Regions from separate parts of the Homo sapiens genome. Here all the other regions are linked to region 1. The links come from fine-mapping of genetic effects on gene expression. A gene starts in region 1. Each other region holds a variant in brackets. All regions are shown on one strand. Distances are from middle to middle.

Region 1 (11,013 bases):
AAGACCCAAACAGACAACCACAGGACAGGGCTTCCAAGGACAACCTAAAATTACCTCCACAGAACAAGGTCCCAGTCCCACCCCAGGTTATAAGAAAATAATAGTGATAGTAGTAATAACGGCTATTGCTAAATTTTACTGAGCACTTATTATATGCTACACAATATTCTAAATGTTTTACTATTATAATAATGGCATACACTTATATGGCATTTACTATGTTCCAAGTGCTCTGCATATATTAGCTTAATTTCTCTTCACACCAAGCCTATCAGGTGTTCTACTTTTCTCCCTTTTCAAAAATTGATATATAATAGCTGTACATATTTGGGGGGTATATGTGATATTTTGATACACGTATACAATGTGTAATGATCAAATCAGGGTAACTGGGATATTCATCACCTCTAACATTTATCTTTTCTTTGTGTTAGAAACATTCCAATTTTTTACTTCAAGCCATTTTGAAATATATAATTATTGTTAACTGTAGTCTCCCTACTGTACTATTGAATACTAAAACTTTTTCCTTCTCTCTAGCTGTATGTTTATAACCATTAACCCACTTCTCTTCATTCCCCAAACTCCTTCCCTTCCCAGCCTCTGGAAACCACCATTCGACTTTCTACCTTCATGAGATCCACATTTTTTAACTCCCACATATGAGTGAGAATATGCAGTATTTATCTTTCTGTGCCTGGCTTATTTTACTTAACATAATGACTTCCAGTTCCATCCATGTTGCTGCAAATGACAGGATTTCATTCTTTTTATGGCTGAATAATATTTTGTTGAATATATGTAACACATGTTTTTTATCCATTCATCCAGTGATGGACACTTAAGTTGATTTCCTATCTTGGCTATTGTGAGTAGTGCTGCAATATACATGGGAGTGCAGCTCTCTCTTCAATACTGATTTCCTTTCTTTTGGCTATATACTCAGCAATGGGATGAGTTATATTACTATCTCCATTTTGTAAAGGAGAAAACTTCCACACAGAGAGATTAAGTTACTTGCCCAAGGCCTCGTAGCTACCAAGTGACAGAACCAATGGAGTAGAACTCAGACCCACACATTTAACTATCATACCACACTGCTTCCAAACTATCATCGTACTTTGCTGGTTACTTCAGAGGTTAGCCAAAACAAAGGATAAGCTGCAGTTATCCAAAGAGCTTACTTATATAGAATACTCCCCTCTTCACTAATGCTGGAAAAATGAGGTTTCACTTCAATGTAATTTTAAGCACATCTGATTTCAGGGCCTGGGCTTGCAAAATACATTATTTACTATGAAAATATGACATTTTGATTAAGAGTTGTTAAACATTAAAATGTTTTTATTGTAAAATAAATCATTAACTAGTAATGACATTTCCATTAACTACAGAGAAAAAAATACAAGCTCTTTATGCATCATTAGGAACAAAACTTTAGATCCCCATCTGTGCCAATATCAGTTCTGTACTTTCAAAACTGTCTTTGAAACATTGACCTGACAGTACATAGGTGTCTCAACCCAAACAGGTCATCCAAATCCAGTGCACCACCCCCATGCCCATCAGCTGCCTCCCATGCTCCCCATCTCAGAGAATGGCACCAGTGGCCCCCAGGCACCCAAGCTGGTAGTTAATCCAGGCCCATTTCTTGCCACATCCAGTCACAGAACATTCTAGAATCCCATTCTAACCTTACTGCCCCTGCTTCTGCTCAGACCCTTACCATCTCTCCCCTAAACTATTCCAGAAACCTCCTGACTGACTCCCAGTTTTCATCATTTCCAGCTCAGCACTGCTGCCAAAGTAATCTTTCTAAAACAAAATCTGATTATGTTACTTCCCTGTTTAGAATCTTTGTCTTCAGGATAAAGTGTAAAATCCTTCCTAGAACATACAAGGCTCTTTATTATCTGGCCTCCAACTACCTTCCCTGCTTCATCTGAGGTCGCGCCCCTACACATCTCACATGAGGCAAACAGAGCAACTTGGAACTTCCCAAACAGTGCTGCTCTGTCTGCCCAGAATGCAATTCTCTCATTTGCTCCTACTCATTTTTTTAGACCAGCTCAAAACTCAGACTTCATCAAGCTTTTCTCGGGGCTTCCCTTGCTTTTTGTACCTCTCTATTCTAACACTTATTCAACATGGCAAAATTATTTGTTTGTATGTCTGTCTTTAGATGACAAGGAATCTTCTAGCATCCTGCAACTTATTCATCTCTGTATTTCGTTTGTTGAATGAAATAATGTCTCAGGATTTAAGCAAGAATATCCAAACTGCTCTTGATAAATGCCCATTGTGTGAGTCAAAGGAAGCATACAGGCCAAATCCCGTTTCCATAAATGTCTTCTCATTGATAATCTTTATACATGGAAACTACTTGTTACATTTGTGTGCCTACATAAAGTCACAACCAACACAATGAAACATTTTTAAAAGATACATTAGACCACCAACTAACCAACCTGCTGAATATTTCTAGATATTCAAGCTATTTCATTCCACTCCATTTAAGTGGTCTTTAACTTTTTGTGGGTCACAGGCCAATTTTGGTAGTGTTTGTCTATCATTTCTTAAACCCACACTCACTTTTGATAACAATAAAAATCCCACATACCCGTGGAGACTCCTAAACCCTCCAAAGGGCACAAACCGCAACTCCGCTCAAAATAAAACATAACTTTGTATGTGGTAGGAATTCACAAGTTCATGAGAGATGTAATACATCAGCTAAGATACTACTGAGCTTTGCTCTCAGGTAGTTCATATTATTAAAACAGGCGTTTTCCTTCTCAATGTTTATATTGTATCAAATATAAACACTGTAACATTAAATATGCTCTTTCAAACTGCATACATCACAAAGTTTTTATTGGGAAGATGAAGCTGGAGAGGCAGTGACATCTGTCTCCCCAACCTTATGGTGGGGAATCTTATGATAGAAATTTGCCAGAAACAAATGAAAAACACAAATGGGAAAAAATATCCTGTCTCCTGGCATATAACCCCCAATGATCACTTATTTAAATGAAGGGAGTTCTTTTAAATGCTGCTGGCATGGCATTTTCCTACTTCTCCTACAACCCCACTTTTAAATAATTTAAACTTATAGCTAGCAGCAGCTTCTTTTTAAACTAATGTGTTTTGTCCCTGCAAAGACAAAGGGTTAAATTAAAGAACAGCTGGCTGCCTGCCATTGGCTGGGTGGGGAACGGTTGGGTGAGGGTAGAGAATAGAGTAGGAGGAAAAACCAGTTAGAAGAATAAGTGCTAATTTCTTACCCTGCCACATGGCCATCTTGATCCTATCTTCACCCACGCTGGGGTCACAGGCTGAGTTTCCCAGAGCCTCTCAGTTTTGTAGGGAGACTTGATAGAAAGGCAGCTATGTGGCCCTGTTTTCTCCAAGGGGCTAAAGCCCCAAACCTGAAAATGTAAACAGAAAAATGAATACCTAAAAGAAACTATACACTTCAAATGCTTGAAAATTATCTCCTGCTCCTCTCTGAACCTCTCTTTCAAAGATATGCAGGCATGGGTAGTGTCAAGTTTCCCTCTAAGCAGCAAGGTATCTCTGAAGAGAGAGAGATCTGGAGTGAGTTAATGTTGCCACTCAGTGCTATACATTTCTGCATGAATCATTAGAGCTTCAGTAAATGAGGTCTGAGTCTCAGTTGATGAGTTGCTGGATGAAATCACCGTTAAGCACCTTTCCTACCTTGAAGTTTCATGCTTTGGAGACTGAAGAGCAACATTAATATCCAGTGCCCTAACCAACCCCCAAAATACCCAACTTTACATTTAAAAATCAGTAGAAGGAGAGGAAAGTTTATGAATAAAGTTTGGAAACAGATCTTGTATAGGGGAAAAAAAAGGAAGCGGAATAAAAAGTGAAGAGTGATGATACCCTTTGAGTAGTAGTTCTCTCTCCTTGTGTCATTATACTTTCCCACCCTTTGCAAATTTCCTATAGTGAGCGTATATTGCTTTTATAATCAGGGGGAAAATGAACCAAAGAAGAAGAAAAATGTAAAAATGGAATACCAGTTTAAAGAAAACCAAATTAATTCAGCTAATTCCTGTTGTTAAAACTTCAAATCCAGTCCTAGGACAATATTTGCAAAGATATTAAAGGAGTTAGGGGCCGGGTGCGGTGTAATCCCAGCACTTTGGGAGGCCGAAGCAGGCGGATCACCTGAGGTCAGTTCGAGACCAGCCTGGCCAACATGGTGAAACCCCGTCTCTACTAAAAATACAAAAATTAGCCAGGTATGGCGGTGCACTATAATTACAAGTGACGCCTGTAATCCCAGCTACTCGGAAGGCTGAGGCAGGAGAATCGCTTGAACCCGGGAGGGAGGCGGAGGTTGCAGTGAGCCAAGATTGTGCCACTGCACTCCAGCCTGGGCGACAGAACGAGAGCCGGCTCAAACCAAAAAAAAAAAAAAAAATAGGAGCTAGGAATGGGAGAAAAAATGAGAGGTCTGACGACTTAGTTTGACTTAGAGGCTTAACACTCTGCTTGCCCATTTAAACAAGATCTCAGTTAATAAACTGGTCTTCCCTACTTAGCATACAAGCCAATCTGTTTTTTCTAAAAGTCTTCACCTTTTTGACCTGGTGAACATCAAAGTAGATTGTTATTTCCATATCTTTTATACAACCAACACCTCCACCTCCTAAGTGAAAGTGCTAAAGCACAAACACTGAAGGCTAATACTAGCTTGAGAATCGTGTTGGCCTTCTTTAATGACAAAAGGGTTAATGTGTACACCAGTCCCAAAACACCAACAGAGAAAAGACAGTGCTTTGGACAAGGAAAAGTTCGCGAAGTCCAAGAAAACTAGGAACTCACAAACTCCTAGGGTGAATTCAGCAGGAAAAAGCGCTCCGATGACTTCTCTGAGACCTGGGACAGTCTGTTTTGATTTGCCTTTTTTCTTCTCCTATTTCGCGTGCAGTTAAGAAGTAATGATCATCGTCCCGTGGGACTAGGCGAAATTTAACATCCCTGAAGTTAAACCCGAGCAGTTGCTAATAAATGTATGAAGTTTATGTAAAGTTGATTCGTGCTGGTTTTTTATGCTCCAAACTTCTAGATTTCCCTCACTTACTCGGGGCAGCTTCCACTGACGTTATCGCACGGGCACAGGTACAACTTCACTGGGAACTCCAGGCAACTGATTTGCTCTGAAATGTTAATCAAAGGAAACGTGCGTCAATGTAAAGGCAAAGCTTTTCCCGTGTGGATCAAGGCGCTCAAGAGCAAGGCTCGAAAGTCTGGAGAGAACCAGCTACGCGCGTTAAGTGGCAAAAGGAAAACAGCGCAGCAACTACTTTTCCGAGAGTTTCTCCACTTTGCTAAGACCCATACAAAACCAGCGGCAAGTCCAGAGCCGGAGGGAGAAGAGCCGGGCCTCGGCTGAGCTTTGCCAGCCTAAGTCACCCTACCCCAGTCCGGGAAAGGGGACGCAGGCGGCTAAACACTCCGATTCAAAAGCGGGGCGGGCTTGGCGCCGCTCCGCAAGGAAACTTCGCTCGGGCAACCCAGGGACCATAACTCGGAGAACAGGGCTGGGCTCCCGGGAAGACGCCGCTCAGCACTGGCTGGAACTAGCCTGTCTACCTCCTCTAAGCGCCGGGCTGCCAACGCCGGGCGCGGGGAAGCCCCATCTCCGGGGGTCCAAGCCAGCGGGATTGCGCTTCCCCTGTGTCGCTGCGCTTAGGGGGTGCTCCGGGGGTGGGCCGGGGGCCAGCGGCCCGCCAAGGACCTGTTGGGGAAGGGACAGCCCGTTTGCCTTTACCTGTCGCCGAGGTCCGGAGCGGCGGAGCCCGTGTCCGCCGCCGGTGGGCAGCGCGCTCGGTCGGCTCTGGCGTCCAGGACACCAAGTTGAGTGAGCGCCCCACGTAGCCGGCAGAGCTTCATTCACACAGCCCAGCCGGGGAGGAGGGGGAGCGAAGCGGGCGCGCGGCTCATGTGACAGGGCGCCTCGCGAGTATCGGCTCAGCCCAGCCAGCGTCTGCGCGTGCGCGCCACGCCGAGCTCACACCCGGCACCTCTACCCAGCCGAGATGAGGGGAGGCCCGCCGGGGAGGAGCTGCCAGGAGGAGTTTCAACTTGCGCAGCCGCAGTACGTCGGCCCCGCTCGCTGCCATATTTAATGAGGACTGGGCGGGCGGGTCCTATCCCAGTGCTGGGCGTGTCAGTTGCCTTTGAAAACGCAATGCCCCATTGTGTTTCACTATTTCCAGCTTGCAGTGCCTTTTTTTGCTGGGGAGAAGGTTTGTCCTTAGAATGAAACTGTCTATCCTGAGCTTTCGGCCCACAGAGTAATTAGTAGTAGAAATCTAATACTAATAACATTAGATCACATAATTTGAGCTGCTTCTTATGTGCCAGGCACTCTCCTAACCCCTTTACTTTTTTCGTCTCATTTGGTGTTCACAATAACCCCGAGGGTTATTTCTCCATTTTTACTCATAAAAATACACAGGCACAGAAAGGTTAAGTAACTTGTCTAAACTCATATAATAGTAGGAATAGGAATAGTGATCAAACGTAGTGATACTTTTAACAGCCAACTTGATGTTTCCAGCAACGCTGCAAAAACTATACTGCAGTTGTTAGTACTGTATTATCTCCATATTAATCATTACAAAACAGAGGCTCAGAAAAGCTGAAGTCACAGGACTAGTACGTGGTAGAACTGGGAATCCAACCTAGGTCTAACTTACTCCAAAGCCCTTACCCTAGGTTTGAAAGAAACAGCACACCGTTTTGCAGAAGAGAAAACTTAGGCCAAATGGGGTGCACTGACTCACTTAAGATGATCCAGCTAATTAGTTCTTGGCAGACCTGAGACTGGAATCCATATAATCCAAGTAATCTAACTAGAACCAGGGTACTCTACTGCAGTGAACAATTTGGAATGCCTACTTTGGACAAGCTAAGTGGTCAGGGATTTAAAAACCCCTATCCTAGCCCAATCAGCATAAGGCTACCGGGGACAAATTTGTAATCCGACATAGTCAGGCTTTGACCCATTGCAATATGAGAGACTGCACACGGTAGGCATTTCATCAAACAGAAAAACATGGAGTCATTATAGGATTGGAGAGAAGAGTGGAGTTTAGGTGAATTTTAAACAAAGCAGTGTTTTTGGTAAGCTCAAAGCAAAGCAGTACTGTCATTTGGGGTCACCATCAGGTCTGAACTGCAAAGTGAACCCAGAGTTGTGTTTCCTTGGGAACCACAAAATAAAGATAGATGTGGAATGTTGTGTCCAGATACCCCTTATCTGAAGCTCTGCACCTGGGTTGGAAATTGAGGCTGCTTCTCTGTGTCAAAGAAACTTATGTCCTCCAGATGCATGTGGGATGTTTCATTCTTACTGATACGATTTCAAGCAGAAAAGTTTCTGATAATCTACGATTTTAGAGAACAAAGTCTCTCAGTGAATAAAAAAGTGGTGGTCACTGAAATAAAAACATCGTTACCACTTTACAGCTGCAATATGTCCGCCAAAGAAATATTGTTCTCTGTTAAATTTGCATCTGGTTTTATCTGTGTGTTATTCCGGCCTGATGAATGGCCGGATTTTTATTTTTTCAGTCCAAAATTTTTTTGCTTTCTGAGCTGGTAACATTCAGTCCCTTCCTTCAGGCACTCATGGTGTATGGGATAGCCACAAATAACTAGAAAATATCAGTACAGGCCTCTAATAAAGGTAAATCCAAGTGGAGGTAACACCGTTGGCAAAGGTGAGCAGGCAGGAAGTTATATGTGAGGACCCGTGAGTAGTCCTATGTGGTTGAAGTTTAGGGTAAGGAAGTACAGGGGAATTGTGGAAGATAATACCCAGAAGGTAAATTGGGGCCCAATTTTGGAGCATCCTGAATATTGGACTAAGATTTATACCTAATTCAAAAAGTGACTGAGAAAGAATTGAGGTTTCTGAGCAAGGCAATCCTCTTTTGGAATTCATCTTTTAAAAGGTGAATCTAGAGTAATTGTTCAAGGAAAGGTTTGATTGTTTGCTTGATTTTTTTTTTTGTCATTGAAGTAGAAGAAACTGGAGCTTATATGTAGGTCGAGCAGAAAAACTACTGGTGAAATCAATAATAAAGAGGCAAGAGGCCGGGTGCAGTGGCTCACGCCTGTAATCCCAGCACTTTGGGAGGCCAAGGCAGGTGGATCACTTGAGGTCAGGAGTTCGAGACCAGCCTGGCCAACATGATGAAACCCCATCTCTACTAAAAATACATGGCTAGGCATGGTGGCTGGCGCCTGTAATCCCAGCTACTCAGGAGGCTGAGGCAGGAGAATAACTTGAACCCAGGAGGCAGAATTTGCAGTGAGCCGAGATCGCACCACGGCACTCCAGCCTGGGAAACAAGAGCGAAACTCTGTCTCACATACACACACAAAAGAGTCAAGAAAAGGAGGGGATAACTAATGGAGTAAAATAATTGAGAGGCGAGAAATGAGATTCAAAACACAAACTAACCTCGGACACCTCTTCCTCTGATACAGGAAAAAACGGTTTGAAGGATGGCAGTCTGGTTGGAAGGAGACATGTCACGAAACTGCCTCTGCAGAGCAAACATATTGGCTTTACTTAAAGTACATACAGGTTTATTTGGGAGAGCTGGGGAGCGAGTAGGAGGGGTTGGGAGGGAGCAAGGAATTGGGGGGAATTGGGAGTTATAAAAGGGCTGCAGTACACCCAGTTTACCACTTGGTGTCGCCACTGACCGATGACAGCTTGGAGGGCTCCAGTTGGGGGACGAAATCTCCCCCTCCCCCCAAAAAATGTGCATTTCAAAAAAAGAACATTTTATCTTTTGCGAATTGCAAAACAAAACAGAGTGAGCTCCAGAGCCAGACTGCCTGGGCTCAAAGCCAACCATACTCAGACGCTTACTAGCTGTGTCACCTTGTTCAAGTTATCTAACTTCACTGTTTCGGGTTTCTTACCTATAAAATGGGATAATAGGAGTAAATGTATTAACAGGTGTAGAACAGTTAGAACAGATTAAGCACTCAATAAATGCTAGCTTGTATTACTATTGATAATGATAATGATGATAATGAACAAGGCTCCTTCAGCCTTTGGATCCCCAAGTTTTTCGGAAGCTATTTGTGTGGTGAGTATAAATGTCTGTACAATACCTTCCCAAGCGAAGTGGTGAGAGTGTGGTGCTAATGTGGCAAAATTAACAGTTCAATCAAGAGGTACAGATTCTGACTGTTAACTTGTTTTCTTTCCCATGGCTCAGACCACTCTCTACAGAAATCCAGCCAGGTGTCCCATGTGTTTGTGCCCATGGAAGTGAGTGGGTTTGGCCAAGAGAGTGAAGATAGATCAACATAATGAGTCCTCTGCTCTCCTCCCCCTACCCTGGACAAAATTGAAAAGATGTTCCCACCCCACCTCCCATGATGGTCAACAAACTGTTAACAGGTCAAGAGCCATTTCAGGTCTTACAGAGCAAAGAGTAAATACATTGTGATCTTAAAGCTTATTAAAAAAAAACGGAATTTCTCTGTATAACAAAAGGTAGCACTTCAGACTTAATATTGCAAAAGAAAAAGCTTTAGAACAATAGACCACAGTGACATCTAAACTATCATGTCTAAATGCAGCTTTAACTTTCATTTTAAAATTGGCATTGCAAATAGAGACAGTTAGATGAGTACGTAGCCATGTAGAGTGGTAAGTGAATGTTTCTTGTATGGTTCTTATTTATTTGTTTCACATTTTTTGAGCCCTTACTATTATGCTAGCCATTGTGCTAGCCGCTAGAAATACTGATTTTAAAGTAAAATTTCCCGAGTGCCTAAGAAATGCCTGGGATAGTTCTAGAACAAAAAATGGGGCAGAATAAAAGAAAATGAACAAAGTTCTCTAGCTCAGGGGATCTATCAAAACAGTAGGTTAGGAAATGCTGATGATAAAGTGATCTGAAGTCATTTGTAATTGCCCTGTGCCTGGAGAGCAGGGTATCAAAATTAACAAATGGCTTCTATACCAAAAATGGATAGCCAACCTCATAACTGGAGAAATGCTAATGAAAGCTACCATGAGATACCACTGGCAAAGTTTTAAATATTTATAATAGATTGTGTTGGCCGGGCACAGTGGCTCATGCCTGTAATCCCAGCACTTTGGGAGGCCAAGGTGGGCAGATCACTTGAGCCCAGGATTTTGAAGCCAGCCTGGCCAACATGAAGAAACCCTATCTCTACTGAAAATACAAAAATTAGGTGGGTGTGGTGGTGCATGCCTATAATCCTAGCTACTCCGGTGGCTGAGGCAGGAGAATCACCTGAACCCAGGAGGCGGAGGTGGCAGTGAGCCAAGATCGCACCACTGCACTCCAGCCTGGGCGACAGAATGAGACTGCTTCAAATAATAATAATAATGATAGTAGTAATAATAATACACTGTGTTGACAAAGCAGGGGTGGGAGGGTAAGTCCTCTCATAAATTGTTGGTGGGAGTGCAATTAGTCAATTGAGGGCAATTTTGCAATAACTATAAAAATTAAGAATATATGAGACTTTGATCCCAAAATTTAATTTCCAGAAATATTTCCTTCAGTTATGTTTGCATGGGTGTAAAATGTTATATGAACGAGGTTATTCACTGTAGCATTGTTTGTAATAATAAAAACTGGGAAGCAACCAGATGTCCCTCAATAGGGGACTGATCAAATAAATAATGGTGCATCTCTCCAATGGAAAAAAAAAAAAGAAAAAGAATGAAAGGCCGGATGCAGTGGCTCACACCAATAGTCACAGCACTTTGGGAGGCCAAGGTGGGAGGATCGCTTGAGCCCAGGGGTTCAAGACCAGCCTGGGCAACGTAGTGAGAACTTGTCTCTAGAAATAATACAAACATTAGTCAGGTGTGGCATCACACCTGTGGTCCCAGTTACTCAGGAAGCTGAGATGGGAGGATCACTTGAATCTGGGAGTTCAAAGCTGCAGTGAGCCTTGATTGCACCA
Region 2 (11,013 bases), 150 kb after region 1:
AGTTACATATGTATACATGTGCCATGCTGGTGTGCTGCACCCATTAACTCGTCATTTAGCATTAGGTATATCTCCTAATGCTATCCCTCCCCCCTCCCCCCACCCCACAACAGTCCCCAGAGTGTGATGTTCCCCTTCCTGTGTCCATGTGTTCTCATTGTTCAATTCCCATCTATGAGTGAGAACATGCGGTGTTTGGTTTTTTGTCCTTGCAATAGTTTACTGAGAATGATGATTTCCAGTTTCATCCATGTCCCTACAAAGGACATGAACTCATCATTTTTTATGGCTGCGTAGTATTCCATGGTGTATATGTGCCACATTTTCTTAATCCAGTCTATCATTGTTGGACATTTGGGTTCGTTCCAAGTCTTTGCTATTGTGAATAGTGCCGCAATAAACATACGTGTGCATGTGTCTTTATAGCAGCATGATTTATAGTCCTTTGGGAATATACCCAGTAATGGGATGGCTGGGTCAAATGGTATTTCTAGTTCTAGATCCCAGAGGAATCGCCACACTGACTTCCACAATAGTTGAACTACTTTATAGTCCCACCAACAGTGTAAAAGTGTTCCTATTTCTCCACATCCTCTCCAGCACCTGTTGTTTCCTGACTTTTTAATGATTGCCTTTCTAACTGGTGTGAGATGGTATCTCATTGTGGTTTTGATTTGCATTTCTCTGATGGCCAGTGATGGTGAGCATTTTTTCATGTGTCTTTTGTCTGCATAAATGTCTTCTTTCGAGAAGTGTCTGTTCATATCCTTTGCCCGCTTTTTGATGGGGTTGTTTGTTTTTTTCTTGTAAATTTGTTTGAGTTCATTGTAGATTCTGGATATTAGCCCTTTGTCAGATGAGTAGGTTGCAAAAATTTTCTCCCATTTTGTGGGTTGCCTGTTCACTCTGATGGTAGTTTCTTTTGCTGTGCAGAAGCTCTTCAGTTTAATTCGATCCCATTTGTCAATTTTGGCTTTTGTTGCCATTGCTCTTGGTGTTTTAGACATGAAGTCCTTGCCCATGCCTATATCCTGAATGGTATTGCCTAGGTTTTCTTCTAGGGTTTTTATGGTTTTAGGTCTAACGTTTAAGTCTTTAATCTATCTTGAATGAATTTTTGTATAAGGTGTAAGGAAGGGATCAGGTTTCAGCTTTCTACATACGGCTAGCCAGTTTTCCCAGCACCATTTATTAAATAGGGAATCCTTTCCCCATTTCTTGTTTTTCTCAGGTTTGTCAAAGATCAGATAGTTGTAGATATGTGGCGTAATTTCTGAGGGCTCTGTTCTGTTCCATTGATCTATATCTCTGTTTTGGTACCAGTACCATGCTGTTTCGCTTACTGTAGCCTTGTAGTATAGTTTGAAGTCAGGTAGCGTGATGCCTCCAGCTTTGCTCTTTTGGCTTAGAATTGACTTGGCGATGCGGGCTCTTTTTTGGTTCCATATCAACTTGAAAGTAGTTTTTTCCAATTCTGTGAAGAAAGTCATTGGTAGCTTGATGGGGATAGCATTGAATCTATAAATTACCTTGGGCAGTATGACCATTTTCACGATATTGATTCTTCCTACCCACGAGCATGGAATGTTCTTCCATTTCTTTGTATCCTCTTTTATTTCATTGAGCAGTGGTTTGTAGTTCTCCTTGAAGAGGTCCTTCACTTCCCTTGTAAGTTGGATTCCTAAGTATTTTATTCTCTTTGAAGCAATTGTGAATGGGAGTTCACTCATGATTTGGCTCTCTGTTTGTCTGTTATTGGTGTATAAGAATGCTTGTTATATTTGCACATTGATTTTGCAGAAATACAAACTACCAACAGAGAATACTACAAACACCTCTATGCAAATAGACTAGAAAATCTAGAAGAAATGGATAAATTCCTCGACACATACACTCTCCCAAGACTAAACCAGGAAGAAGTTGAATCTCTGAATAGACCAATAACAGGATCTGAAATTGTGGCAATAATCAATAGCTTACCAACGAAAAAGAGTCCAGGACCAGATGGATTCACAGCCGAATTCTGCCAGAGGCACAAGGAGGAACTGGTACCATTCCTTCTGAAACTATTCCAATCAATAGAAAAAGAGGGAATCCTCCCTAACTCATTTTATGAGGCCAGCATCATCCTGATACCAAAGCCTGGCAGAGACACAGCCAAAAAAGAGAATTTTAGACCAATATCCTTGATGAACATTGATGCAAAAATCCTCAATAAAATACTGGCAAACCGAATCCAGCAGCACATCAAAAAGCTTATCCACCATGATCAAGTGGGCTTCATCCCTGGGATGCAAGGCTGGTTCAATATATGCAAATCAATAAATGTAATCCAGCATATAAACAGAACCAAACAAAAACCACATGATTATCTCAATAGATGCAGAAAAGGCCTTTGACAAAATTCAACAGCCCTTCATGCTAAAAACTCTCAAGAAATTAGGTACGATGGGACGTATCTCAAAATAATAAGAGCTATCTATGACAAACCCACAGCCAATATCATACTGAATGGGCAAAAACTGGAAGCATTCCCTTTGAAAACTGGCACAAGACAGGGATACCCTCTCTCACCACTCCTATTCAACATAGTGTTGGAAGTTCTGGCCAGGGCAATTAGGCAGGAGAAGGAAATAAAGGGTATTCAATTAGGAAAAGAGGAAGTCAAATTGTCCCTGTTTGCAGACGACATGATTGTATATCTAGAAAACCCCAACGTCTCAGCCCAAAATCTCCTTAAGCTGATAAGCACCTTCAGCAAAGTCTCAGGATACAAAATCAATGTGCAAAAATCACAAGCATTCTTTTTTTGTTGTTGTTGTTGACAAAGTCTCGCACTGTCACCTAGGCTGGAGTGCAGTGGCACAATCTCGGCTCACTGCAAGCTCTGCCTCCCGGGTTCACGCCATTCTCCTGCCTCAACCTCCCGAGTAGCTGGGACTACAGACGCCTGTCACCACGCCTGGCTAATTTTTTGTATTTTAGTAGAGACAGAGTTTCACCATTTTAGCTAGGATGGTCTCGATCTACTGACTTCGTGATCCGCCCGCCTCGGCCTCCCAAAGTACTGGGATTACAGGCGTGAGCCACCATGTCCAGCCCTCTATTTAAGAGCTTTATACTTTCCATGTGGTAAGTCATTCAATCCCTTTCTACCAGGACCCTATATATCTTCCAATGTTACATTTAAGAGCACTTTCTTCATGAAATCTGCCCTGACCATTGAACTTGAAAGTGGCCTCTTCTTCCTCTGAAAGTCTATGATGTTCCATGTGTACCCCTTGGAAGTTCTGGGTATGTCTTCATCTTGGTTATTTGTTTGCATGGGCTTGCTTTCCTTCAAGATTATAAAAAGATTTTTTCCAAGACCTTGTCTCTTACATCATTTCAACCTTCACCAAGCTAGCATGGTGCCAAATACGCTTGAAAGAGTCTAGGCTTAGCGACCTTAGGAGCATTTGGCTGCACCCCACATCTCAGTTCTCTTTTTCTGTCAAATGAAGAGAATAATAATACCACCCTGGTAGAGTTTTTGTAAAGAATAAATGAGATAATGTATATTAAATGCTTCATGTAGTGCCTGGTGTATAATTAACACTCAATATTAACTATTATTTAATTATTTGTGTTATTGATTGTATATTCAAAATGATGAATAAATGGAAATACTAGTACACATCAATAGACAAAAAAGCTTGAGTTCCTACTATGCACCAGAAACTTGCCAGAATACTCCCTATGACAGGCCAGGCATAATTATCATAATGTTATAGTTATGGCTCAACAAAATTACATTCACCTAGTAAATGGTGTATGACTCCACAGCCTGTATTTTCCACATTCATGCACTAGATAATTTATGCCTTGGCCTGACTTCAGAGAGACCAAGAGCTTTTTCTTTTATGTCTTTTTTTTCTTTTCTTTTTTTCTTTTTCTTTTTTTTTTTTTTTGAGACGGAATCTAGCTCTGTCACCCAGGCTGGAGAAGAGTGGCACCATCTCAGCTCACTGCAACTTCTGCCTCCTGGGTTCAAGCCATTCTCCTGCCTCCCGAGTTTACAGGTGCATGCCACCATGCCTGGCTAATTTTTGTATTTTTAGTAGAGACAGGATTTCACCGTGTTGGCCAGGCTGATCTCAAACTCCTGACCTTAAGTGATCTGCCCACCTTGGCCTCCCAAAGTGCTGGGATTACAGGCATGAGCCACCGCACCCGGCTCCAAGAGTTTTTTCAACATACACCTAGGGAAACCACTGCCTCACCCCACCCTGTCTACCTTGTGTGTTAGAATGAGTGTATTGCATTCCAGAGAAACAGCCATGTTTACTTAGAATCCCACCACATCAGTTTACATTTAAGAATAATACTCCAGGACATTTGTCAAAAATATAGATTCCTGGCATTATCCTAGGTTCTCAGGAAGAACCTACGAATCAACTTTTGTAATAAATATCCCAGATGATTTAATGCAAACTGACCACAAACCACTCCGTGAAATGAGTGGGTGATTGGGTTATATTTAGGTAATTATCTGCCACAGCTTGTAAAGAGACCAAGAATTCCTGAAAGTGAGGCCAAATTCAGATTCAGTAAATTTAGAGTGGGGCCTGAGAATTTGCATCTTTAATAAGCTCCTGTCTGATGCTAAGATCATATTTTGAGGTGCTAGAACAAAGCATTGTGCCCAGGATTCCTGGGTCAAGATTCTGGGGTTGCATTAGGGATCAGCTGGAAAGAATGCTGTTAACAGACTTGTCATGTTCTCCAAGGGAATAGCCATGGAGGCTGCTGGCAGGAATGCCAGATGTTGGCCATTCCGCGTCCCTCTAAAAGCACGCCACTTTACTTAGGACACATGAATCACTTCATCATAATGCAGAGTGTAATCTCTCCCATGCAAAGATAAAAACAACTGACCCCCCTTCCTCCATCAGCACAAACCATGTTCTGTTTTATTCATGGACGAATGGAGATTGCCTCACACAACTATGTCCCCTTCTTTTAGCCAATAGCAATGAGTACTGGGAGTAGTTGGCAAAGTTTGGAGGTACCACAATGGCTGACAGGTGATGAATCTGTGACTTGGATTATGAACCAGATGTGCCTAAGAGTTGGAGCTGAATATCTGAAACCATGTGGAGAATTGGACTGGAAGTGGGGACATACTGGATAGAGTGGAAAAAGAACGAGATTTCACAAAGTGAAGGAAAACTTTATTTTCACCATTTTGTCCAGGAGAAGAAGAAGAAGGAGGAGGAGGAGGAGGACGAGGAGGAGGAGGAGGAAAGTAGTACATATTTGTAGTAAAAGAAGGAGGAGGAGGTGGAATAAGACTAATTAAAAACTCATCTAGGGCCAGGCACAGTGGCTCACTCCTGTAATCCCAGCACCTTGGGAGGCCGAGGTGATCGGATCACTTGAGGTCAGGAGTGCGAGACCAGCCTGGCCAACATGATGAAACCCTGTGTCTACTAAAAATACAAAAGTTAGCCAGGCATGGTGGTGGGCGCCTGTAATCCCAGCTGCTTAGGAGGCTGAGGCATGAGAATCAATTGAATCCGTGAGGCAGAGGTTGCCAGAGGTTGCAGTGAGCTGAGATCATGCCACTGCACTCTAGCCTGGGCGAGAGAGCGAGACTCTGTCTAAAAAAACAAACAAACAAAAAAAAAAACCATCTAATCTAGGAGAGTAGAACAATATGGCAGAATAGAAGCCTCCACCATTCATCTCTCCCCACGACAGGAACACCAAAATTTAACAACTATCTGCACACAAAATTACCTTCACAAGAACCAAAAATCAGGTGAGCAATCACAGTACCTGGCTTTAACTTCATATTGCTGAAACAGGCATTGAAGAGGGTAGGATGGACAGTCTTGAGTCTCTGACACCACCTCTCTTCCATCCCCCAGCAGCAGTCATGCTGTGTGAAGAGAGAATCTGTGAACTTGCGGGAGGGAGAGTGCAGCAACTGGGGGACTTTACATTGAACTCAGTGCCACCTTGTCACAGTAGAGAGCAAAGCCATGCTGGGCTCAGCCAGCACCCATGAACAGAGGGAGCATTTGGGCCAGCCCTAGCCAGAGGGGAATGGTTCATCTCAGTGGTCAAGACATTAGTTTCTTGGCAAGCCTCACTGCGGTGGGTCAAAGTGTTCTGGGGTTCTAGGTAGACTTGAAAGGCAGTCTAGGATACAAGGACTGCAACTCCTAGGCAACTCCCAGTGCTAGGCTGGGTTTAGTGTCAGTGGACTAGGGTGGCCTGTGACCTAGAGAAACACCAGCCAGGGCAGCTAAAGGAGTGCTTGTGCCATCTCTCCTCCAACCCCAGGAAGTGCAGCTCACAGCA[A/G]CAAAGATGACTCCTTCCTTTGGCTTAAGGAGAGGAGAGCAAAGGGTAAAGAGGACTTTGTCTTACCTCTTGGATATCAGCTCTGCCACAGTAAGAGAGGGCACCAGGCAGAGTTGTGAGTCCCCCATTCTAGGCCTTAGCTTCCGGATGACATTTCTAGACCCACCTTGGGCCAGAAGGGAACCTGCTGCCTTGAAGAGAAGAACCCAGTTCTGGCAGGATTCATCACCTGCTGTCTAGAGAGCCTTTGGGCCCTGAATAACCAGCAGCAATACCCAGGTAGTACACAATGGACCTTGGCTGAGACTCTGAGACATGCTGGCTTCCAGTGTGAACCAGTATATTCAAGTTGTGGTGGCTATGGTGAAAGACTTCTACTTGAGAAAAGCAGAGGGAAAAGTAAAGGGGACTTTGTCTTGCCCCTTAGGTAGCAGCTCGGCCACATTGGGGGGTAGAGCAACAAGCAGGCTCTTGGGGTCCCAGAATCCAGGCCTAGGCTCTTGGACAGCATTTCCAGATCTTGCCCTGGGCCAGAGGGGAGCCCACTGTCCTGAAAGTAAGTCTCAGGCCTCCCAGAGTTCACCACAAGCTGAATGAAGAGTCCTTGGCCCTTGCACTTTAGGTGCACATCAGCATGGCCTGGCAGAAACCCCTGTGGGCTATGGTGTTGGTAGCCACAGGGAGAGGCTCCTCTGCCTGTGGAAGGAGGAGGGAAGAGTGGGAAGGACTTCGTATTGTGGTTTGAGTGCCAGCTTAGCCACAGTAGAAGAAAACATCAAGTAAATGTCTAATATTATTGACTCTAATCCTTGGCTCTCAGATAGCATATCTGGACCCACCCAGGGCCAGGGGCAGCTCACCACCCTGAAGGAAAGAACACAAAACTTGGCTGGCTTCACCACCTGTTGATCATAGAGCCCTAGGGCCTTGAGTAAACATAGGTGGTAGCCAAGTAGTGGTTACAGCAAGCCTTGGGCAAGACCCAGTGCTGTGTTGGCTTCAGGTCAGACCCAGTGCAGTCCCAGTGGTGGTGGCCACAGGGGTGCTTACATCACCATACCCCCAGTACCAGGCGGCTCAGCACAAAAAGAGAGACTCCATTTGTTTGGGAGAAAGTAAGGAAAGAGTACAAGTAACTCTGCCTGGTAATCCACAGAATTATTCTGGATTTTACCTATGACCACCAAAGTGGTACCTCTATGAGTCTGACAAACCCACAGTGTTATTGGGCTTGGGGTCCAAGTCCCTTTGAAAACCTGGAAAGCCTTCCCAAGAAGGATGGGCACAAATAAGCCCATATTGTGAAGAATACAATAAATATCTACCTCTTCAATGCCCAGACACTGACAAACATCAACAAGCATCAAGACCACAAAGGAAAACATGACCTCACCAAGTGAACTAAATAAGGTGCTAGGGACCAATCCTGGAGAAACAGAAATATGTGACCTTTCAGACAGAGAATTCAAAATAGCTATTTTGCAGAAATTCAAGATAACACAGAAGGAATTCAGAATGCTATCAGATAAATTGAACAAAGGGATTGAAATAATTAAAAACAATCAAGTAGAAATTCTGGAGTTGAAAAATGCAACTGATATACCGAAGAATGCATCAGGGTCTCTTAACAGCAGAATTGATAAAGCAGAAGAAAGAATTAGTGAGCTTGAAGATAGAAGATAGCCTATTTCAAAATACACAGTCAGAGGCGACCAAAAGAAAAAAGAATTAAAAGAATGCATCACACCTAAGAGATGTAGAAAACAGCTTCGAGAGGGCAAATCTAACAGTTACTGTCCTTAAGGAGGAGATAGAGAAAGAGATGGGGTAGAAAGTATATTCAAAGGGATATCAGAGAACTTCCCAAACCTAGAGAAAGATATCAACATTCAAGTACAAGAAGGTTATAAAACACCAAGCAAATTTAACCCAAAGAACACTACCTCAAGGCATTTACTAATCAAACTCCCAAAGGTCAAGGATAAAAAAGGGATCTAAAAGCAGCAGGAGAAAAGAAACAAATAACATACAATAGAGCTCCAATACATCTGGCAGCAGACTTTTCAGTGGAAACCTTACAGGCCAGGAGAGAATGGCATAATATATTTAAAGTGCTGAAGGAAAAAAACTTTTACCCTAGACTAGTATATGCAGCAAAAATATCCATCAACTATGAAAGAAAAATAAAGACCTTCCCAGACAAACAAAAGCTGAGGAATTTCATCAACACCAGACCTGTGCCTACAAGAAACGCTAAAGGGAGTTCTTTCATCTGAAAGAAAATGATGTTAATTGAACAAGAAGAAATCATCTGAAGGTACAAAACTCACTGGTAATAGTAAACATACAGAAAAACATAGAATATTATAACCCTGTAATTGTAATGCATAAACTGCTCTTACAATAAGTAGAAAGACTAAATGAACCAATCAAAAATAATAACTACAACAACTTTTCAAGACATCGACAGGACAGTAAGACATAAGAGAAACAACAAAAAGTTTAAAAAGTAGGGGAACAAAGCTTAAGTGTAGAGTTTTTATTACTTTTCTTTTTGCATGTTTGTTTCTTTGTTTATGCAATCAGTGTTAAGTTGTCATCTTTTAAAATAATGGGTTATAACATAGTATTTGCAAGCCTCATGGTAACCTCAAATAAGAAAACATACAACAGATACAAAAAAAGCAAGAAATTAAATCACATCATCAGAGAAAGTCAACTTCATTAAAAGAAAGATAGGAAAGAAAGAAGAAAGAGAAGACCACAAAATAACTAGTAAATAAATAACAAAAATCAGTAGCACTTATATATGCCAACAGTGAACAATCTGAAAAAGACATGAAGAAAGTAATCCCATTCACCATAGCCACAAATAAAATTAAATATTGAGAAATTAACTTAATCAAAGAAGTGAAAGATCTCAACAATGAAAACTATAAAGCACTGATGAAAGAAATTGAATAGGACATCACAAAATGTAAAGATATTCCATGTTCATGGAATGGAGGAATAAACATTGCAAAAATGTCCATACTACCCAAAGCAATCTACAGATTTAATGCAATCCCTGTCAAAATACCAATGACATTGTTAACAAAAATAGAAAAAACAACCCTGAAATTTATATAGAACCACAAAAGACCCAGAATAGCCAAAGCTATCCTAAGCAAAAAGAACAAAACTGGAGGAATCGTATTACCTGACTTCAAATTATACTACAGAGCTATAGTAACCAAAACACCATAGTACTGGCATAGAAACAGATGCATAGCCCAAGGAACAGCATACAGAACCCAGAAACAAATCCACACACCTACAACTAACTAATTTTTGACAAAGGTGCCAAGAAAAGACAGTCTTCAATAAATGGTGCTGGGAAAACTGGATATCCATAGGCAGAAGAATAAACTCGACCCGTGTCTCTCGCCATATACAAAAATCAAATCAAAATAGATTAAATATTTAAATCTAAGACCTCAAACTATAAAACTACTACAAGAAAATATTGGGGGGAAATCTCCAGGACATTGGTCTGGGCACAGATTTCTTGAGTAATACCCCACAAGCACAGTAATACCCCCAAAGCAAAAATAGACAAATGGGATCACATCAAGTTAAGCTTCTGCACAGCAAAGGAAACAATCAACAAAGTGAAGAGACAACCCACAGAATGGGGGAAAATATTTGCAAACTACCCATCTGACAGGGAATTAATAACCAGAATATATAAGGAGCTCAAACAAGTCTATAGGAAAAAATATACTAATCCAACCAAAATATGCCAAAAGATTTGAATAGGCATTTCTCAAAAGAAGACACAAATGGCAAGCAGGCGTATGAAAAGGTGCCAACATCATTGGTCATCAGAGAACTGCAAATGAAAACTACAATGAAATATCATCTCACCCCAGTTAAAATGGCTTATAGCCAAAAGACAGACAATAACAAATGCTGGCAAGGACGTGGAGAAAAGGGAACCTTTGCACACTGTTGGTGGGATTATAAACTAGTACAACCACTATGGAGAACAGTTTAGATGTTCCTGGAAAAACTAAAAATAGAGCTACCATATGATCCAGCAATCCCACTGCTGGGTATATACCTAAAAGAAAAGAAATCAGTATATCAAAAAGATATCAGCATTCCTATGTTTGTTGCAGCACTGTTCACAGTAGCCAAAATTTGGAACCAACTTAAATGTCCATCAACAGAAGAATGGATAAAGAAAATGTAGTACTACCCCAAACTATAAAAACCCTAGAAGAAAATCTAGGCAATACTATTGAGGACATAAACAGAGGCAAAGATTTCATGACAAAAACATCAAAAGCAATTGCAACAAAAGCAAAAATTGACAAATGGGATCTAATTAAACTAAAGAGCTTCTGCATAGGAAAAGAAACTATCATCAAAGTGAACAGACAGCCTACAGAATGGAAGAAAATTTTTGCAATCTATCCATCTGACAAAGGTCTAATATCCAGAATGTACAAGGAACTTAAACAAATTTATAAGAAAAAAACAACCCCATTCAAAAGTGGGCAAAAGATATGAACAGCCACTTCTCAAAAGAAGACACTTATGGGTCCAACAAACATATGAAAAAAAGCTCAACATCACTGATCATTAGTGAAATACAAATCAAAACCACAATGAGATACCATC
Region 3 (11,013 bases), 550 kb before region 1:
AAAGAATTCACTTGGGGAATTCAATGATAATAAACTACAGATGGGTATCTACCTCACAGGGCTATTGGGGAAGTTAAATAAAATAATATATGGAAAGTGCTTATTATGGAACCAGGCTTATAGTGATCACTTCATAACTGGGAGCTGGTGTAGTAGTAGTTGTTGGTGGTGGTCATTACATTAGGGCTTTCTTATCATGGTAACTGTGTTCCTGGCAATGTTAGATTTGCTCTGAGCTGGTTTTGTGGTGACACCAATTGTAGTAGTGAGGGAGACAAGTGTGTTGATAGCTGTCCTGGAAAATGACATGAAAACAATGAATCACAAAATGGGTGAAATCCACCATCCATCCTACTACACAAGCTTAGGAGACATTGGTGACACCTCCCTCTCTCTTCTCCCCACTCTCAATCTACTACCAAGTGCTATCTATTTCTTCTGTTAGAACTAGCTACCTAACTGTTCTCCCAACTTCCACTGTTATCCCTCCCTCATAGTCTTCTTCACAAAAAGGTCACAGTAATCTTTTTAACATGTAAATTAGGACATCTCATTGACCATGACAATTTGAACACGTGTATTTACCTCCACTTCGCTGCCAACCCTCATTAAAATGACAGTAATTTGGGGAGAGAAGACAACAATGCAATATTTAAAGCTAGAAAATAGACATACAAGGGTAACTGACAGCCGACCTGCAGAAACTGAATCCAAAACTGGCATTGGGGAAAATTGACAACCAACACAATTCACAATAAAGAACCTCCAAAAGGCTCAAAAATTGGCAGTACCAGTACTTCTGGAAGTGGAGGTGAAAGTAAGTCTAAAAACAAGAGTATTGGTTGAAATTCTTATTAACCAGTTGGATCCTAAGATCTCCCCCACAACTCCTCACGGTTGTGTGATTGTCTCTGCCCCAACTCCCATCAGATGTGAGGTTTATTCTCTAGAGAGAGTAAAACAGAGGGTCTCTGGACTGCGGAAGCACAGTTGAGGAAGAAGTACCATATGGAAAACAAGGACATTCAGAAGTTTATATATTGATTGTTGATACTCTTAGCCTCTTATCCCACTTAGTACTTTTTTTTTTTTTTTTGAGATGTTGTCTTGCACTGTTACCTGGGCTGGAGTGCAATGATGCCGTCTCGGCTCATTGAAACCTCCACCTCCTGGGTTCACGCGATTCTCCTGCCTCAACCCTCTTGAGTAGCTGGGATTACAGGTGCACACCACCACGCCCAGCTAATTTTTTTTTTCTTGTATATTTAGTAGAGACGGGGTTTCACTATGTTGGCCAGGGTGGTCTCAAACTCCTGACCCCATGATCTGCCTGCTTCGGCCTCCCAAAGTGCTAGGATTACAGGCCTGAGCCACCGTGCCTGGCCCCACTTAGTTCTTAGAATGCTGACAGTCAGGCTTACAACCTCCAGGCTGGAATATCCTTCTGTGGAAATGTGAACAACCTCAGAAAAAAATAATAATAAAGAAAAAGAAAAAAAACCCTAAAGATGTTGATATAAAGGGTTGTCCAATGAAATGACCCAGCCAGATCACCTTGCAGTGAAACCCATTGTGGTAGACAGACCCAAGGTAATCCCCAGTGGATACCACCTCCTGGTACTCATGCCTTTATATACTTCTCTCTTCTTGAATGGAGATGGGAAATGTGACTTGCTTCTAACCTAACAGAATATGGCAAAGGTGATGGGATGTCACTCTCATAGTTAAGTTACATTATAAAAGGCTCTGCTTTAGCAGACAGAAGCTAATGTCTCTTCCTCTGGGCTTGATGAAATGGGAGGCTATGTTGCAGAAGCCTACATGGCAAGTAACTGCCAATCTCCTTAAGGAGCTGTGGATGGCCTCTAGGACCTGAGGGTAGCCTCCAGCCAACAGTTAGCAAAAAGCTGAGGCCCTCAGTCGTGTGGTCATTAGAAAATAAATTCTGCCAACAGCCTGATTAAGCTTGGAAGCAAATTCTTCCCCAATCAAAACTCCAGATGAGTTTACATCCTGACCAACACCTTGATTACAATCTGGGGAGACTCTTGAAAGAGGACTCAGCTACCCCAGACCTGAACTCCTAATGCACAGAAACCATGAAATTATTAATGCGTGTTGTTTTAAGCCACTACGTTTGTGGTAACTTGTTACGCCACAGTAGAAAACTGATATACTCACACAAGTCTCACTAAATACTCTGACCTTCTAATTAGCTTTTTAGGAACCTACTCATAAATATGAGCAAACAGCCAAGGATGACAAGCTATCTGAGGAAAGCCTCCAATATCAAAGATAGAAACCTAAACCAACCAATAAACCAAAAACTTAAAAGAAACAGAAATGAAAATTAATAACCATTATTGTACTCAAAGAGATAAGATGTTGTATCTATCAAAAAAGAGCAAGATTATATTTAAAAGGATACTCAGAGGGCAAAAAATTGCTCTGAAAAATTCCTGCTTTAGCTGGAGGCCATTATCCTGAGCAAATTAACACAGGAACAGAAAACCAAATACCACATGTTCTCACTTATAAGTTGGAACTAAACACTGGGTTCTCATGGACGTAAAGATGGCAACAATAAGTAGTGGGGACTACTTAGCAGGAGGTAGGGAGGGAGTCAAGGGTTGAAAAACTATTGGGTACTATGCTCACTACCTGGATGACAGGATCATTTGTACTCCAAGCCTTGGCATCACACAATATACCCATGTAACAAACTTGCACATGTACCTCCTGAATCTAAAATAAAAGTTGAATTTTTTTTTTAAAAAAATCCTGCTTTGAACTTCTTATTAGAAAATGTTGTAGAATGAAAAATTTGTCTGGTTTTTGTTGCAGGACCTTTGTCTCAGTTTCCTGGGAAAGAGCTTCTAAACTCTTAAAATTTCTTGAGTGATAAGAGTGTCTTTGTTATTCATGATGGGCCTCTGGGCCCATGACTGAATTTATGATAATGAGGTGGCTTAGGGTGGGCTCTTGGATAGTTTCAGGATGGGGGTTGGTGAGGCTGAAAAGACCAACAACCATGTGACTAGAGAGTTGGGGCTTTGTGCCAGATGATATCAGGCGAAGATGACCTCTGGGGAGGGAAGAAGGGGGAATGGAGACTGAATTCAATCACATGATCAATGATTCAATCAGTCATGCCTGTATAATGAAACCCCAGTGAAAACCCTGGACACCAAGGCTCAGGTGAATTTCCTAGTTAGTAAACATATTGATGTGCCAGGGGTGACATATCCTGATTCCACAAGGGGAGGACACGGAAGCTCCACAATTAGGGCACTCCTAGACCTCATCCTGTAGGTCTCTTCATTTGGCTAGTCCTGATTTGCATCTTTTATAATAAAACTGTAATCATAAACATGGTACTTTTCTGAGTTCTGTGAGTTATTCTAGGGAATCATCAAACCTGAGGGGCTCATTGGAATACCCAAGTTGGTAGCCAGTTGGTCAGAAGTGCAGGTAACCCTGAACTTGTAGCTGGCATCTGAAGTGAGAACAGTTTGTTGGAGACTGTGCCCTTAACCAGTAGAGTCTCTGCTAACTCTGTTAGTGTCAGAATTGCATTGCAGTATTGCAGAAGCAATGAAAGATAAAGCTGAGGGAACAGCCCAGAAGTAGAGCAAACAGACAAGCACATGGAAAGAATAAGAAAAATGTAAGCAAATTACATTATTCAGGTAGTCCAACATAAGAATAACATGAGTTCCAGGGAGGAAAAGGTCAGAAAAACTGGAGAGAACAAAATTAAATAAATAATTCAACAAAAGTTCCCAGAGTTGAAAGACAGTTTTAAGATTGAAAGGGTCCACAGAATACCCAACACAGTGAAAGAAAATGGACACACACCAGGGGAGATCAATGTGATGTTGCATCCTAAGGACAAAACAAAGAACCCAATGGCTTCCAGAAAAGAAAAATTACAAGGGATCAGGATTCCAAATGGTTTCAGGCTTCTCAAAAGTTAGAAGCTAGAAAACAATGAAGAAATATCTTCAAAATTATTAGGGATATCATGGGATGAGAGTGCTCTACAGATCTAGAGAGCAATTGGGCCATATTGGAGCAATTCAAAGATGTCTCACAGAAGACGAGACTGACAGAAGAGCCAATGCATCTTCACATATTGGGAGAATATTTAGTCAACTGGGGAACAGGTTGTGGATGAGCTAATGTTAAGTACGTAGAAAAATAAGCAAGAGAATAAACAAGACAATTATCGGCTCCATTAAAAACAAGCAGATGTGCAAGAAAGGAAAAGTAATCCTAGTGTGCTATGTAACTCAGCTGTGAATAGCATTTCCAGAGTCATAATAATGTAAACACTGAATATTGATCTAGTCAAAATTATGACATAACTGTACTGGTAGAGTGGTGGAATGGGAAGTCTGTGTTTGTGCATGCACGGGGGCTTATGGTGATAATGAACTAAACTCTCCTCTTCCATAGAATGCTTTAATCTGAAAAATTATGAATTAGCTTTACAAGCATGCTATTTAGCTAAAGGAGCTCCAAGTAGTTCCCTCTAGGGAGCAGATAATGGGAGAGGGGGGCAGGTTGACAGCTATGACAAGTACCTATTTGTTTCTTTAAACTGCATACAAAGCAAAATTCTTTAGAAAATAAAAACTATTTTTATTTTTTAATTTTTTATTATATTTTTTCTTTTTTCTTTTCAACTTTATTGTATTTATTTTAAGTTCTGGGATACACGTGCAGGACGTGCAGGTTTGTTACATAGATAAACGTGTACCATGGAGGTTTGCTGCACAGATCAACCTATCACCTAGGTATTAAGCCCCGCATGCATTAGCTATTTATCCTGATGCTCTCCCTCCCGCCACCTAACCCCAGGTCCCAGTGTGTGTTGTTACCCTCCCTGTGTCCATGTGTTCTCATTGTTCACCTCCCACTTATGAGTGAGAACATGCGGTGTAAAAACTATTTTTAAAAGCAAATTCAAATCAGATCATGTCACCAAATTACATAAAACCCTTAGTGGCTTACCATTGCAATTAGAACAAAATCTTCTCTTTCCCATGACTTATATGCTTCATCATGATCTGAATCCCGCCTATCTTATTTCATTTCATGGGACTCTCCCCCTTGATCTCTAGGCTCCAGTCACTCTGGCCTGCTTTTTCTCCCTCAAACACAAGCCTGTCTCCATCTCCAGGAATTTGTACTTGCCATTCCCTCTGCCTGGAATCCCTTTCCCCAGATATTTTCACAGCTGCCTCCTCCTGTTGACAAGACTCAACTGAAAGTTGCCTCTTCAGAGAAGCCTTTCATGACAATCCAATCTGAAACAATCAGGCAAACCCAAATTGAAACTGAAATCCAGTCTAAAGACAACTGCTCTGTACTCTTCAAAAGTGTCAATGTCATGAAAGACAAATGAAAGCTGGGAGTAATCTAGATTAAAGAAGACTAAAGACACAGAACTAAATGCAATCTATGATTTGACCCTATATTTACAAAAAAAAAAAAGCTATACAGAGCATTATTTGGACAATTTGAGAAATTCAAATATGCATTGTATTCTAGATAATATTAATGTATCATTGTTAAATTTCATAAGTGTGATCATTGTATTGTGTATGAAGGAGAATGTCCTTGCTGTTTATGAGATACATGCTGAAATACTTATGTGTGACATGTCATGATGTCTGCAACAAACGTTCAAGTGGCTCAGCCAAAAATAAAGAGGTAGATATGCAGATAAATAGATGGAGTTATAGATATTAAGTAAATGTGATAAAGTGTTAGCAATCAGTAAAGAATATGTAAGTGATCACTGTATTATTCTTGCAACTTTTCTGTAGGATTGAAAAGTTTTCAAATCAGAAGTTGGTGGAAAAAAAATCTTGAAGTTTATTTAGTAGGTTTGTTGTTGGTAGTAGCATTGGT[G/T]AAGTAATTCCAAACTATTTTGGATGTGCTATAGGATTAAGCAAATGAGTAAATAAATTGACTGACCAAAGTAGCCCTCCAGGCACTTTCTATCACATCATCAGTTTTTGTTTTCTTTATTGCACTTATTTTCTGAAACAACGTCTTCATGTATGTATGTCTGTATTTCCCCAGCCCTTAGCCAATAAATGCTATTTGAGCACGGATGATGTCTGTCTTGTTTTTTGGTGAATCCTCAGCATTCAAATGAGTGCCAAGCATGTAGTAGATGTTCAATAATTATTTGTGGAATTGATGACTGAATAATGCAATCCCTAGAAACCCTGGGTGTCAGGCTGCTGCAGTTTTGCCCCAGGGCCACGTTAAGGTTCTGAGACCCAGTTGGGAAAGGGCCTTGTTATTGCAGAGACCAGTGAAGCTGAGAAAGAGAAAGGGGGAAACTGAGCCTAGTTCTGTCATATGAAGTGTGGTTAAAGGGAATAGGCCCTTCCAGAAATGGCCATGCCTAAAGGTCATAACTAGAGCATGGGGACTTAAAACCAAAAGGTGAATGATAGAAGGGAGGTCCTGGAAATGACTGTTGAATGCTTTAATCTCCATCTAAGACAACTGAGTTCTGTGACGCCTTGTCCTTGCAAGTCACTTCAATTGTGTAAAGCCTCTCCCCTGAGATTCCTTCTTATGACAGAACTGATTAATTCTGCATTTTGAGCTAACTCTCAGTAAGGGAGAACTACAAGAAAGAGAAAAAGGGACAGCTGGAAAGGCTGCTGGCAGTTCTTTGGAGGAAAAGAAAGCCACCTTCTTCCCCAACCTTTTTCATCACAGCAGTTCTGCCTATCAACACCTCTTTTTCTTAAATTCCTTTCTCTATTCGTTCCTCCCTCCTATATCCATCACTTTCCCTCTTAAAGTCAGTCATAAAGCGTTTGTAGAGGGTGGTGAGGTAACAAAGTAATTTTGTGCGAGACAATTCTTACTAACATTATCTTTTTTCCTTTTTGGATAAAGACACACACACATACACATATTCAAATACTGAGATTGAGTATTACAAATGTCTGCCTGCCTCCATTACTGACACCACACCAGGAGGGTTCTAATAATCTTTTTCACTCCTTCTAAACACCATCACCTAAGGGACACTATCAGCTCTATACTCCCTCCCTCAGATCCCCCCACACACACCTGTGATCTGCCACACCAAAATTTCCACCACTTTTTTCTCTATGCCATTAGAGCAATCTGTTTTCTCTTATTAATACAAGCTGGGTTTAGATCCTTGGCAGGTTAGACTGGATGGCTGTTTCTCATCAGCTTTCCCCCATGTCTAAGCCACAGTGAGTTAAAGATTCTGCAAAGATTCATTTTTTTTCTTATCTTTCTTCAAACTGTTTTCAGTCTCTGAATCTGCTTTGAGGTCCACAACCATCCCACTCCTGCTTACCTACAAAGACCTTTCTCTCATCCCCTGGTCATTCATCATCAGTTAGAATTTTAAATTAGAAATCCCATTAGCATGTTGAGTCCATGGAAGCCAAATGACCCATTATGGACTAAATCCAAATGTATAGGCAGGTGGTTAAGCCAGTTGGGCCAGCAGCCTTGGCAATGCAGACCCAAAGCTAGAGGTTGCAGCAAAAATAAAGAAAGAATCATGATTTTACAAATTACCTCAAATCAACTGGATATCAGCTCTAGGGAAACAAAGCAGATTTGTAGATGCTTCCAGAACCAAATACACAGTCAAGGACAATTTTTCCTCACTGGTTAGTTTTACCATGTACACCTATATTCAAACAGCCTTCATTGCTCCCATTACCTTTAAAACCAAATCTTCCAACTCTTCAATCTGATGTTGAAAACCTTTTACATCCCGCTTTCTCCCTACCACTTGCTTCACTCTAATCTCATCTCTCATCAGTCGTTGGTATGTTCCCTCTATCTCAACCAGCCTGGCTCATTCTCACCTCCAGATTTCTATCTTTGCTTCTCTCCTTGTCTGCAATGCCTTTCCACTTCCCCTTTGCTGATCTATGTTAATTGCATCATTCAAGATCCATTTCAAGATCTGTCCCCTTACAAAAAGCTGTCCGTGATTCACTCACAGGATTGCTGATATTTCGTGCTAAAACAGACTTTAGAGCTAGATGATCAAGCTCAACTTTATTCCCACCTCCATTTTTCATACGAGAAAACTTAAGGCCCAAAGACATTAAATGATCTGTATAAGGTCATGTTGAGAGTTTAGTGGTAGAACCTTAATATGAAGCCAGATTTCCTGACTCCCCTTGCAATTTCCTTTCCGCTCTGTCACACTTAGTCCCCACCCACCCCCAGCCCCCCAGAAAAGTACAAAGTGTGGTGTCATGATCATAAACTGGCATCTGTGTTTGGATTGCTTTTCACCTGTATTTGGCTTATCTTGACCACCAAGCTCTAATAATTCTTGTGGGAAGGATCACGTCTAATATTTCTGCCCTTTCTCCTTCCCCAGGACACCTAATAGGGCTGTATACACCACAGACTGGCAGTAAATACCGCTTAACTGTGGAGTGCTTCACTTCAAGAAAACATAAAAACAGAACCAATAAAATGAGTATACCCTGGTTGAATTATTATATTACATACATATTCAAAAATGTTCCTCTAAACAGGGACCTCCTATAGTGAGCTTGGTTGCAGATCATTAACTGCTGTCCAGAAAGAGTGAGAGCTGAGAAACCTCTGCTCCTTTGACAAGCTCAAGAAAGAAAAAGGCATTAAGGCAGCCTTCCCACTCTGCTATGAAGAGGATTTACACAGACCCTGTCTCACAGCCCCCAGCTCACAGCCCTCAGTATTGTGCTCTGGTCTCCCTCAGCTGGAAATTGAGTGACACAAGTTCTAAATGTCTGTTCCACCACTAATTATCTCTGTGACCTAAGACATGGCACTTAGTCTCACTGGACTTGTGTTTTCTCATCTGTTAAAGGGTAGGGGACAGGGGTATGTGATGGAAGTCCGAATTTGCTTGCCTCACACATTTGTTGTGAGGCTGAAGTGAGATAATATATGTGAAAGTACTTTAGAAATAAAAAGGCATTATACAAATGCAAGGTATTAACTTTTTAACTCTCCAATCCTATATCAATTAATCCTAGGAGACTAGAGTGAGTAAAGGTTAACAGGTTTGCATTTTAATCCCAGCTAAATTAATAGTCTGAATCCTCTACCTTCTCCATACATGCTGCCTGTTCTTCATCCCATCTCCTTATTTTATTTAGTAGATTATTATAAAGGTTGCTATTTTGGCTTGGCACATCCCGAGGTAGTACAGTAGGGGAGGTTGGCAGCTGCTAAGACTCGGGAGAGACACTGATTTCTTCCCAAATTGCTCTAAAAGGGAGGACTTAGGGAATTTAAAGCTACTGATCAAGGGGGGAAGGGCTTCCACTCTAGCAATACAGTGCCACTCTCTCATTCAATAATGAAAATGAAATGAAAACAGGAAGGGAGAAGAGATTTAATTTTGTCACATTTCTCAGCTTTTCTCTCCTTTGCCTCTCCAGAACTCTGAGCACGGCTGAAATTGAAGGAGCTCCATGCTGGCTTGGATAAGCTTTATTCTGGGTAGAATCAGAGTAAATGCTGGCAGTTGGGTAAGGTAGTGCATTGCATATTCAAAAGATATGAGCCTATTGTACTGATCGATCCTTCATCCAGCCCAATCAGGTAACTTATATAACATGCCCAAAAGTCCCAGGCTAAGGACCATTTCTGCCCTGGGACATCCAGAACTATGTTCATCCAAGCCTCTGTGGATACGGTCATCATTCCAGATATGTCTGGTTAAAGAAATTCTTATGTACCTCTTTGCCTTTTTAAAAATCTGTATTGTTTAATTAAAAGAGAGCCTCTTAGGAGATCATTAATCATTTGAAATATCAAATAGTGCTGAAAAGCAAGGCAGAAAAATACATCCTAACCAGTAACCTACAATGAATCATCCACTTAACAGACATTTCCTGAATCCTGACTATGACCTCAAGTCCTGGGTTAGGTTGTGAGGAAAATACAGAAGCATCTAAGTAAAACTTTATTAAGAAACCAGCAGGTTATGGGAAAGAGGAAGGTGTAGCTTAGTTACAGCAAAGGTGCCTCCCCAAATCAGGTACCAATCAACCATTCTGGCCATCCCTCTACTCTGCCTCCAATGTAAAGCATGGTATTCAATGCTGGGCTAAGGAACCCCCGACACACACACACAAAGAACCCTTACTATGATATGAGGCAATAAGGTAGCTAATGATGGGCTGAAAAATAATTTTTTAAAACCTTCAAAACTAATCATAATGCAGTTCAGGCAGTATATCTCCAGTAACCTACCCTAATGGAGCAAAAGCCATGTACAAGCAACTATTTTAGCATTCAATCTCAAAATGACCTTGTAGCAAGAGTCTACATCATAAATGTTGGCCTCATTATAATTGAGTGTAGAATTATAGACAAGAGTTTCAATAAACATACATAAAGCAGTAACTCCAAGTTGTCCCCTGGTGGTATCTCGCTTGACAATACACTGTCTATGCCAAACCCCAAGAGGCCATCTGTAACCCAAGAGGCCATCTTACTCTGTGACTGCTCAGCCTTCAGCCCTTCTAACTACATGTTGGGTTTAGTAAAAAGCAAAATTTAAATGTGGGATATCTGCCCCTTCTAAGGACAGGGATTCCATTAAGGTGTGAGAGCCAGAAAAGTGATCTCCAGTCCTGGACTTGCTGGTTGGTCAGATCTGGCACTTTAATGCACCAGATCCAATAATGAGATCTGGCACCTGTATATTTCAGTCCTGAACTCTTAGGGTTAAAGGCGGCTTGGCTACTTGAGTGTGGGATAGGGGAAAGGAGAACAAGCCCAAGGAGGGTGAAGAGAGTGGGCTCCTAAGGTGAATTTACTGGAAGGAGGACTGCCACGTGAGGGAATTGATAGGGCTCACTTCTCCTGGTCTTCCCATCCCCAGAGTTTAAGGACGGTCCCTGCACTAGCTTAGTAGCTGCCAAGCAGTGTTAACACATCTCTGGAAAGGTGGGCTTAGGCTGTGAGGCTGCAGCG

Which allele goes with the higher level. Positions count from the first base shown, and alleles are read on the strand shown. Sizes are in standard deviations (SD) of each study's normalised expression. Not every link is listed here.
For the expression in liver of the gene that starts at base 6,003 in region 1, G is the high allele of the variant in region 3 and T is the other (moderate effect, 0.70 SD a copy in GTEx).

The links. PIP is the estimated chance that this variant, and not a neighbour inherited with it, causes the effect.
Region 2: its variant is fine-mapped to the expression of CLCN5 in cerebellum (GTEx, PIP above 0.99).
Region 3: its variant is fine-mapped to the expression of CLCN5 in liver (GTEx, PIP above 0.99).

Annotation. Positions count from the first base shown.
Region 1 is chrX:49,917,586-49,928,598 of GRCh38, reverse strand. It overlaps CLCN5 (chloride voltage-gated channel 5), which reads right to left and starts at 6,003. Exons shown (of 15, transcript NM_001127898.4): 1 at 5,807-6,003; 2 at 5,117-5,192; 3 at 3,285-3,428. The coding sequence starts at 3,300. RefSeq lists a silencer at 5,692-5,741.
Region 2 is chrX:49,770,416-49,781,428 of GRCh38, reverse strand. No RefSeq gene overlaps it. Among named protein-coding and RNA genes, the nearest start is that of PAGE4, 53 kb to the left of the region's middle. The variant A/G (reference allele first, on the strand shown) is at 6,349.
Region 3 is chrX:50,472,317-50,483,329 of GRCh38, reverse strand. No RefSeq gene overlaps it. Among named protein-coding and RNA genes, the nearest start is that of DGKK, 7.0 kb to the right of the region's middle. The variant G/T (reference allele first, on the strand shown) is at 5,920.